Linked DNA regions of Homo sapiens. The protein of the gene in region 1 interacts with the protein of each later gene in a pairwise test. Each region holds a gene or a part of one and is shown in the gene's direction. Other genes may lie near its edges. The genes, in order: PHLDB3 and TPM3.

The links.
Region 2: the proteins of PHLDB3 (region 1) and TPM3 interact in binary tests that used the Homo sapiens proteins (3 or more experiments, as listed by UniProt).

The regions. Positions count from the first base shown.
Region 1 is NC_000019.10:43,480,615-43,484,429, reverse strand, and holds part of PHLDB3 (pleckstrin homology-like domain family B member 3), read left to right. Parts: intron 1-3,815.
Region 2 is NC_000001.11:154,189,082-154,193,338, reverse strand, and holds the start of TPM3 (tropomyosin alpha-3 chain), read left to right. Parts: upstream 1-1,238; 5' UTR 1,239-1,320; coding exon 1,321-1,437; intron 1,438-1,605; exon of another isoform or gene 1,606-1,710; intron 1,711-2,027; coding exon 2,028-2,153; intron 2,154-4,257. UniProt on the Homo sapiens protein: Binds to actin filaments in muscle and non-muscle cells. Plays a central role, in association with the troponin complex, in the calcium dependent regulation of vertebrate striated muscle contraction.

The DNA.
Region 1 (3,815 bases):
GGCCAATAAGTTTTTTTTTTTTTTTAACATAACAAAAATTCCATTGTCACATCTTATGAGATTATTAATTTCATTATATTGTAATATATAGTCCATATTCACATTTCTCTCATTGTCTCCAAAATATGTTTTTAAAAATTTATTTATTATTTTTCTTTTCCTTTTTTTTTTTTTTTTCCAAGATGGAGTCTCACTTTGTTGCCCAAGCTGGAGTGCAGTATTACAATCTCGGCTCACTGCAATCTCCGCCTCCAGGGTTCAAGCGATTCTCCCGCCTCAGCCTCTGGAGTAGCTAGGATTACAGGCGCCCACCACCATGCCTGGCTAATTTTGTATTTATAGTAGAGACGGGGTTTCACCATGTTGGCCAGGCTGGTTTTGAACTCCTGACCTCAGGTGATCCACCCGCTTTGGCCTCCCAAAGTGCTGGCATTACAGGCATGAGCTACCGTGCCTGGCCTTGTTTTCCATTTTTAACAGTAGAGACACTATGTTGGCCAGGCTGGTATTGAATTCCTGGCCTCGAGCCTCCCTTCTGGCCAAAGTGCTGAGATTATAGGCCTGAACCATCATGCCTGACCTAAAATATCTTTTCACAGTTGATTTATTTGAATCTATATGCAAAGCACACGCTATGCATTTGGTTTAATGTCTCTTAAATCTTTTAATCTCTAACAGTTCTGCCTCCCCATTAAAGAAAATGCTATTTATTTGTGGAAATAATCAAATAATTTATCCTGTTGACTTTTTCACATTCTTGATTTAGCTGACAACTCCCTTACATAAATTACATTTTTGCCTATACTAATAACATTCATAGAATCAATGCGTTTTGTTATAAAGAATGATAAAGCTAGGCACCATAGCTCACGCCTATAATCTCAGCACTTTGAGAGGCCGAGGTGGGAGGATCACTTGAGTCCCGGAGCTGGAGAACAGCCTGGGCAACATAGTCAGACCCTCATCTCTACAGAAATTTAAAAAATTAGCAGGTGTGGTGGTGCATGCCTTTGGTCCCAGCTACTCGGGAAAAGGCTAAGGTGGGAGGATTGCTTGAGCCCAGTGGGTGGAGGCTGCAGTGAGCTATAATCGCCCCACTGCACTCCAGCTTCAGTGACAGAGTGAGACCCTGCCTCAAAAAAAAAAAAGAATGATAGATAAAGTATTAAGAAAGTGGTCACTTTCTTCCTGATCTCACTTCTACTGCTGAGAAGCCTTCAAATCTGTGTTTATACTTTTCCACATGCACCAGTCAAGCCATATTTTGTGAATTTGTCTCATAAATAAGCACATCCTTCCCAACCTTTTTGTTTTTACCACCATTTGTCCTTCCCTTATTCATTTCAGCCCATATTTATTGAGTGCCTACTGTGTGCTAGACCCTGGGTCATAGCAGTGACCAAGATAACAATCCCCACCTTTGGGGGAAGCTGATGTTTTAAGGGGGAAGATGGACACAAAGCAACATCAATATGTAAAATAAATAGCATGTCAGAGGCTGATAAGAGCCAGGGAGCAAAATAAGGCAGGAACGGCAGTGGGGTCTTCTGCATTGTTAGGCATAAGCTTGTGCTCATTAAAAACGAAGCACAGGCCAGGCGTGGTGGCTCACGCCTGTAATCCCAGCATTTTGGGAGGCTGAGGTGGGCAGATCACCTGAGGTCAGGAGTTCGAGACCAGCCTGACCAACATGGAGAAACCCCGTCTCTACTGAAAATACAAAAATCATCTGGGCGTGGTGGCATGTGCCTATAGTCACAGCTACCCGAGAGGCTGAGGCAGGAGAATCGCTTGAACTGGGAAGCAGAGGTTGCAATGAGCCAAGATCACACCACTGCTCTCCAGCCTGGGTGACAGAGCGAGACTCTGTCTCAAAACAAACAAACAAACAAACAAACAGAATTGCTCCTGCTCTGGTGTTCTGCCTGGCTTCTAGCATCATCATTTATTAAACAGTCCCCTGCTGTGTGCTTTGTCCCCTGCCGTACACCCCTGCTATCTTTTGTGCACGTGAGCAAGTGTGTCCCTGGGCTTCACACCTAGAAGAGGAACCTCTAGGTGAGAGACCCTGAGGGCAGCCAGCTCATCCTTGAAACAGCCCCAGAGGAGAGTGCTGTGATAACCCTGGTGTTTTAGCATAGGGAACTGAGGCTCCCAGAGGGGCAGGAGTTCTGTGGAGGTGACACAGCCGGGCAGTGGTGGAGTCCCAAGCCCATCCCTGGTCTCCTCCTAGATTGGGGCCCAGCTCCCCTACATCCTAGTTTGGTGACCTTGGAGAGTCACCTCTTCTTAAAGCCTCAGTTTCTTGATCTGTCTAGCAGGAACATTAATGGGTTCTTTTGGAGAAGAAACGAGGTAATCACAGTGACCACTTGGCATAGTGCCTGACACAGAGCGGGAGCTTCCACACACAGTGGTGATCCTTGGTCTTTCTGTGTGGATTTGGGGAGATTGCAGGCCCAGCGGGTACTCTTTAAACCTGGCCTTTCCCTCCCTTCCTTTCCCTCCTCCCTAATCCTTCTCATTTCCCCACCTCACTCTCCTGTCTCCAACCAGCAGATCTCATCTCTGTTTCTCATCCCTTCTTGCTCTGGCCTTGCTTCAGTTTTCTTTCTTTTCTTTCTTTTTTTTTTTTTGAGACATGGTCTCCCTTTGTCACCCAGCCTGGAGTGCCGTGGTGTGATCTCGGCTCACTGCAACCCCCACCTCCTGGGCTCAAGCGATCCTCCCACCTCAGCCTCCTAATTAGCCGGGATCCTAGGCACACACCACCATGCCTGGCTAATGTTTGTATTTTTGTATTTTTTTTTTGAGATGGAGTTTCGCTCTTGTTGCCAAGGCTGGAGTGCAATGGTGCCATCTTGATTCACCGCAACCTCCACCTCCCGAGTTCAAGCGATTCTCCTGCCTCAGCCTCCTGAGTAGCTGGGATTACAGGCATGCGCCACCACGCCTGGCTAATTTTGTATTTTCAGCAGAGACAGGGTTTCTCCATGTTGGTCAGGCTGGTCTCAAACTCCCAACCTCAGGTGATCCCCCCACCTTGGCTTCCCAAAGTGCTGGGATTGTAGGCGTGAGCCACCACGCCCAGCCTAATTTTTGTATTTTTTGTAGAGACGGGGTTTCGCCATGTTGCCCCAGGCTGGTCTCAAACTCCTGGGTTTAAGTGATCCTCCCCTCTTGGCCTCCCAAAGTGCTGGGATTACACGTGTGAGCCACCGCACCCATCCTGCTTCAGTTTTCTAACTCCTTGACACTCAAAGTGTGGCTGGTGGAACAGCAGCATCAGGGCCCACCTGGGAGCTTGTCAGACATGCAGAACCTCTCCCCCTACTCCAGACTCCACCCTGAAATGACTGAATCAGAGTCTGCATTTTAACATTTTAACAAAATCCCCAGCGGATCTGCTTGCATGAAGAAATCTGAGATGTACTACCCTGAACCTCAGTTTGACCTCCGGAATCATACCACTGTTTGCAGGGATTATTTGGGAAGAATAGGTTGGATCAGACCAGCTCATGGTCAGGCTCTCATAAATAGTGGACACTTGTATTGCCTTAAATCCTCCTCCCCAACCTGTATGACCATCTGAGGTGACCACTCTACCTGGTGAGTCCTGGCTCTGTCAGCTCTGGCTGTGTGACTTGTGCCGAGTGACTTAACCTCTCTGAGTCTTGGTTTCCACATCTGTGAAACGGAGATAAATGTACTTACCCCTTCAGGAGAGTTTGAGGGGGCAGAGATTATACCTAGAAAGTACTTAGCAGAGGATTATATTCATTAATTTCATCACAACAATAATAATGTAAACAAGC
Region 2 (4,257 bases), on another chromosome or scaffold:
CTCCAGAGAAAGGAGACTTGGTTTCTCCTCTCTCTGTCGAGAGTCAGCTGATGGTCTATCTGCCTATCTACCTCTAGTGACTGGAAGCTCTCAATAGTGGACTCCAGCTCTGCTCTACCCACTGGCCTGGTGGGTGTCTCCGTTCCCCCATTGCTGGGGCTTAGCATTAACTCTCAGTATCCTGACATAAATGACTAACTAGAGCCATTTATATTTGTCCAATATATCTGGTCACCTTGAACAGTGCCCACCTCTCCCTTGGCATATTTTCAGGTGTATGGTGCCAGTGGACTGGTATCCTTGCCACCTGTTAGTAACAAGGCTCCCAATGGAAGAATAAACATGGTCTGGAACTAAACTGGAAAGAATAGAGCTGATAATGATGATTACGATGATGTGGTGAGTGGCAGCGTTGGGGAGAATTAAGAAGGGAGAAGATAAAGGGAAGAAGAGGAGAGAGCCACACAGACCAAAGTCTGTGTGGGTACAACAGTTCTATTTTAAGATTACTGTGGGAAAACAAAGGGTATGATCCTGTCTGGATTGTTCTGACCCTCCCCTGTTTCTCTCCCCACCCCACTTGAAGCTCTGGGATAGCCTTCAAGGATAGGGTTGGAGATTCCAACCCTACCTCTTACTCTACTCTTGTGGCTCTTGGTGGGGAGGAAAAACGTCTCCCTGCCAATCGGAGACTCCCAGAATAGCACAGCAATTTGATCTGGGGATCTGGGAGAATTGTTAAGGATCATGAGTGACCTCCCCTCTTCCCTGTGCCCAAGCTCCTTGAATACCAGGAATCAAAAGCTAAAACTCAACTAACGGAGTTTGACCAGCATTCAACACAGTCTGGGGGAGAGTGAAACGGGAAGCTGAAAGGCAACCAGGACCCCCTGGATGCAAACTGCCAACCTAGAATTGCCAAAGTACACTTCTCTATTTCAATGTTCTTCCCTCCCCTCTTCCTCTTCTTTTAAAACATCCATAGAGCTGCCCAGAATGAGTGGAAAGTTTCAGGGTCAGGGAGAACCTCTTCCCTCCCCCACTTTCCATTGTCTAAAATCAGCCTCAGCTGTTGCTAGATATTTTTTTTGCTGGTGATGTCAGTTCATCAAAGCGTCTCACCCTGTGTTCCCCCAGGAGAACAATGATGGGGTGGAGGGAGCTGGAAAGACCATATTAGGAACAAAAGGTGGAGCTATGAGCACAGATAAAGACTCAAGTCTGGGGACCTCCTGGTCACTCAGGCAGCAGCCCCTTCTTTCTTGCCCCAGTCTCCAGTTCTCCAGTGTTCACAGGTGAGCCTACCAACAGCCACTGCTCATGATGGAGGCCATCAAGAAAAAGATGCAGATGCTGAAGTTAGACAAGGAGAATGCTCTGGATCGGGCAGAGCAAGCTGAAGCTGAGCAGAAGCAGGCAGAAGAAAGAAGTAAACAGGTAGGCACTGGCATTGATCTCTCTCATCTGCTAGTGAACAAGACTGTGAAATGGAAGGGAGTTTTCATGGGAAAGACAGTGACTACTGGTGTCACCTCCTTTTTGGGGGTGGGATGGACTCCCCAGCCTCACTGGAGGAGCAGAGGATATCTAACATATCTGTCTCAGACTGCCTTTGTGACCTTGGGAAAGTCAGTGAGCCACAGTATGTCTGCTGAATTTAAGTAGAAATGGACCATGTTTTGGAAGAACCCTTGACTTCTAGAGGAAAAGGTAAGAGTTCTAGAGGGAAAGAGCATCTCTTTTCACTCAAATAGCATCACGGGCATCTACACTTTAGATATTTATCATCCAGGGGTCTTGGATGAAAACCCAGGATGGCTTGGTCATCTTAGGATCAGAGATTACAGGGTCACAGGCCAAGCTACGGCATAACTCCTGAGGCAGTGGGCTGGAAGTGGCTGGGGAGAAAGTGTGTCTCACTAGGGATGGTAACATGGAGGTTACACTCAGGGCTCCAAGAGCCCAGGGTCCAACCCTGCATTGTTGTGTTTGTGTGTTTTTGTGTGTGACTCTCTGGGCTCCTATAGCTGGAGGATGAGCTGGCAGCCATGCAGAAGAAGCTGAAAGGGACAGAGGATGAGCTGGACAAGTATTCTGAAGCTTTGAAGGATGCCCAGGAGAAGCTGGAACTGGCAGAGAAGAAGGCTGCTGATGTGAGTATTAGAGAGATGGAGGATGGGTTTAATCTACACATATAGATCTTTATGTTAATGTATGACGAAATTCCAAACACACTTGTGGGTTCATGGAACACAGACATATATACTCACATACATTTTTGCATATAACCACATGCTGGTATATTCTCATAATGGCATGTATTTTCTTTCTTAAAGACATCTCCAACATGTTAAAAGTTTTTTTTTAATACATGTAAAGGTCTCATTTATCTCCTATCACCAACCCAGGAATTTAATTATCTTTCCCAGGACCTGGACAAAGAGAGGGGACTCTAAGTTCAGAATGCTGTCACTTATCCTACCTCCTCCCCCATGCCACATTCTTAGCTTTTATGTCCAAGTCTTGGCATGTGGATATGTGTATTAATAGGGAACCTCTCATCTCTCAACTGTCCAACAAAACCAGCTCGGATTTCACAATGGGAAATGGAGGTCACACTGACCCTGGCCATATATGGGTTTATTTATCTTGGCCAATGCAGGCATTTGCCTTTATGCCATGGAGATGCCATATGAAGCATTGCTCCTAGGGCAGCAGAGAGATCCCTACAGTGACAGAGTATAATAGAAACTAAGAAAGAATCTTAGGGGGTAAAGGTATCACCACCAGACTTCACTCTATGACCGTGAGTAATTACTCAGCTTGTCTAGGGCTGAATTTTCCCATTCTCAAATAAAATAAATTCTCTTTTCCATCTCATATTATCCCATCATCATCACCTACTTTCCTTCATCTTTAACCTTGAAGTTTGCTGCAAAGATAAATGAGAGAGTAGATTGAAAAGTTTTTTAGAAGAAAAGTACCATAGGAATCTTACCAACAACAACAGAAATGTCCCAGTATTGGTGGAAACAAGTTTCTCAGTGAACTGAGTTAATAGGAAAAAAGGAGCATGTAATATTTAAAATCATATTTGGGCTGGGTGCGGTGGCTCACGCCTGTAATCCCAGCACTTTGGAAGGCCGAGGCGGGTGGATCACCTGAGGTCAAGAGTTTGAGACCAGCCTGGCCAACATGGTGAAACCCTGTCTCTAGTAAAAATACAAAAATTAGCCAGGTGTGGTGGCGGGTGCCTGTAATCCCAGCTACTCAGGAGGCTGAGGCAGGAGAATCGCTTGAACCCAGGAGGCGGAGGCTGCATGGAGCCGAGATCGTACCACTGCACTCTAGCCTGGGCAACAGAGAGAGACTCTGTCTCAAAAAATAAGTCAATAAAATAAAATCACATTTGGTTTTGGAAAATAGCTAGAAGGACAGACAGAGTGAACCATTCATAAATGCTTTCGGATCCTCATATTTGGTCTCTCTGCCATCCGGTTTCTTTCCTTTTCTTTTCCTTTTTTTTTTTTTTTTTTTTTTGAGACAGGGTTTCACTCTTGTTGCCCAGGCTGTAATAAAATGGTACTATCTCGGCTCACTGCCATCTCCACCTCCCAGGTTGAAGCGATTCTCCTATCTCAGCCTCCTGAGTAACTGGGATTACAGGCACGTGCCACCATGCCTGGCTGGCTAATTTTCATATTTTTACTAGAGACGGGGTTTCATCATATTGGTCAGGCTTGTCTTGAACTCCTGACCTCAGGTGATCCGCCTGCCTCGGCCTCCCAAAGTGCTGGGATTACAGGCGTGAGCCACCCCGCCCAGCCAGGTTTCTTTTTATTGTTGTTGTTGAGATGGAGTCTCGCTCTGTTGCCCAGGCTGGAGTGCAGTGGCACAATCTAGGCTCACTGCAAGCTGTGCCTCCTGGATTCAAGCCATTCTCCTGCCTCAGCCTTCCGAGTAGCTGGGATTGCAGGTGTGTGCCACCATACCCAACTAATTTTTGTATTTTTTTTTTAGTAAAGATGGGGTTTCGCCATGTTGGCCATGCTGGTCTCGAACTCCTAACCTCAAGTGATCCGCCTGCCTCAGTGTCCCAAAGTACTGGGATTACAGGCGTGAGCCACTGCGCCCAGCCTAAGCCACTGCGCCTGGGCTTTTTTTTTTTTTTTTTTTTTTTTTTTTTTTTTTTTTTTTTTTTTTTTTTGAGACAGAGTCTTGTTCTATCACCAAGGCTGGAATGCAGTGGCAAGATCT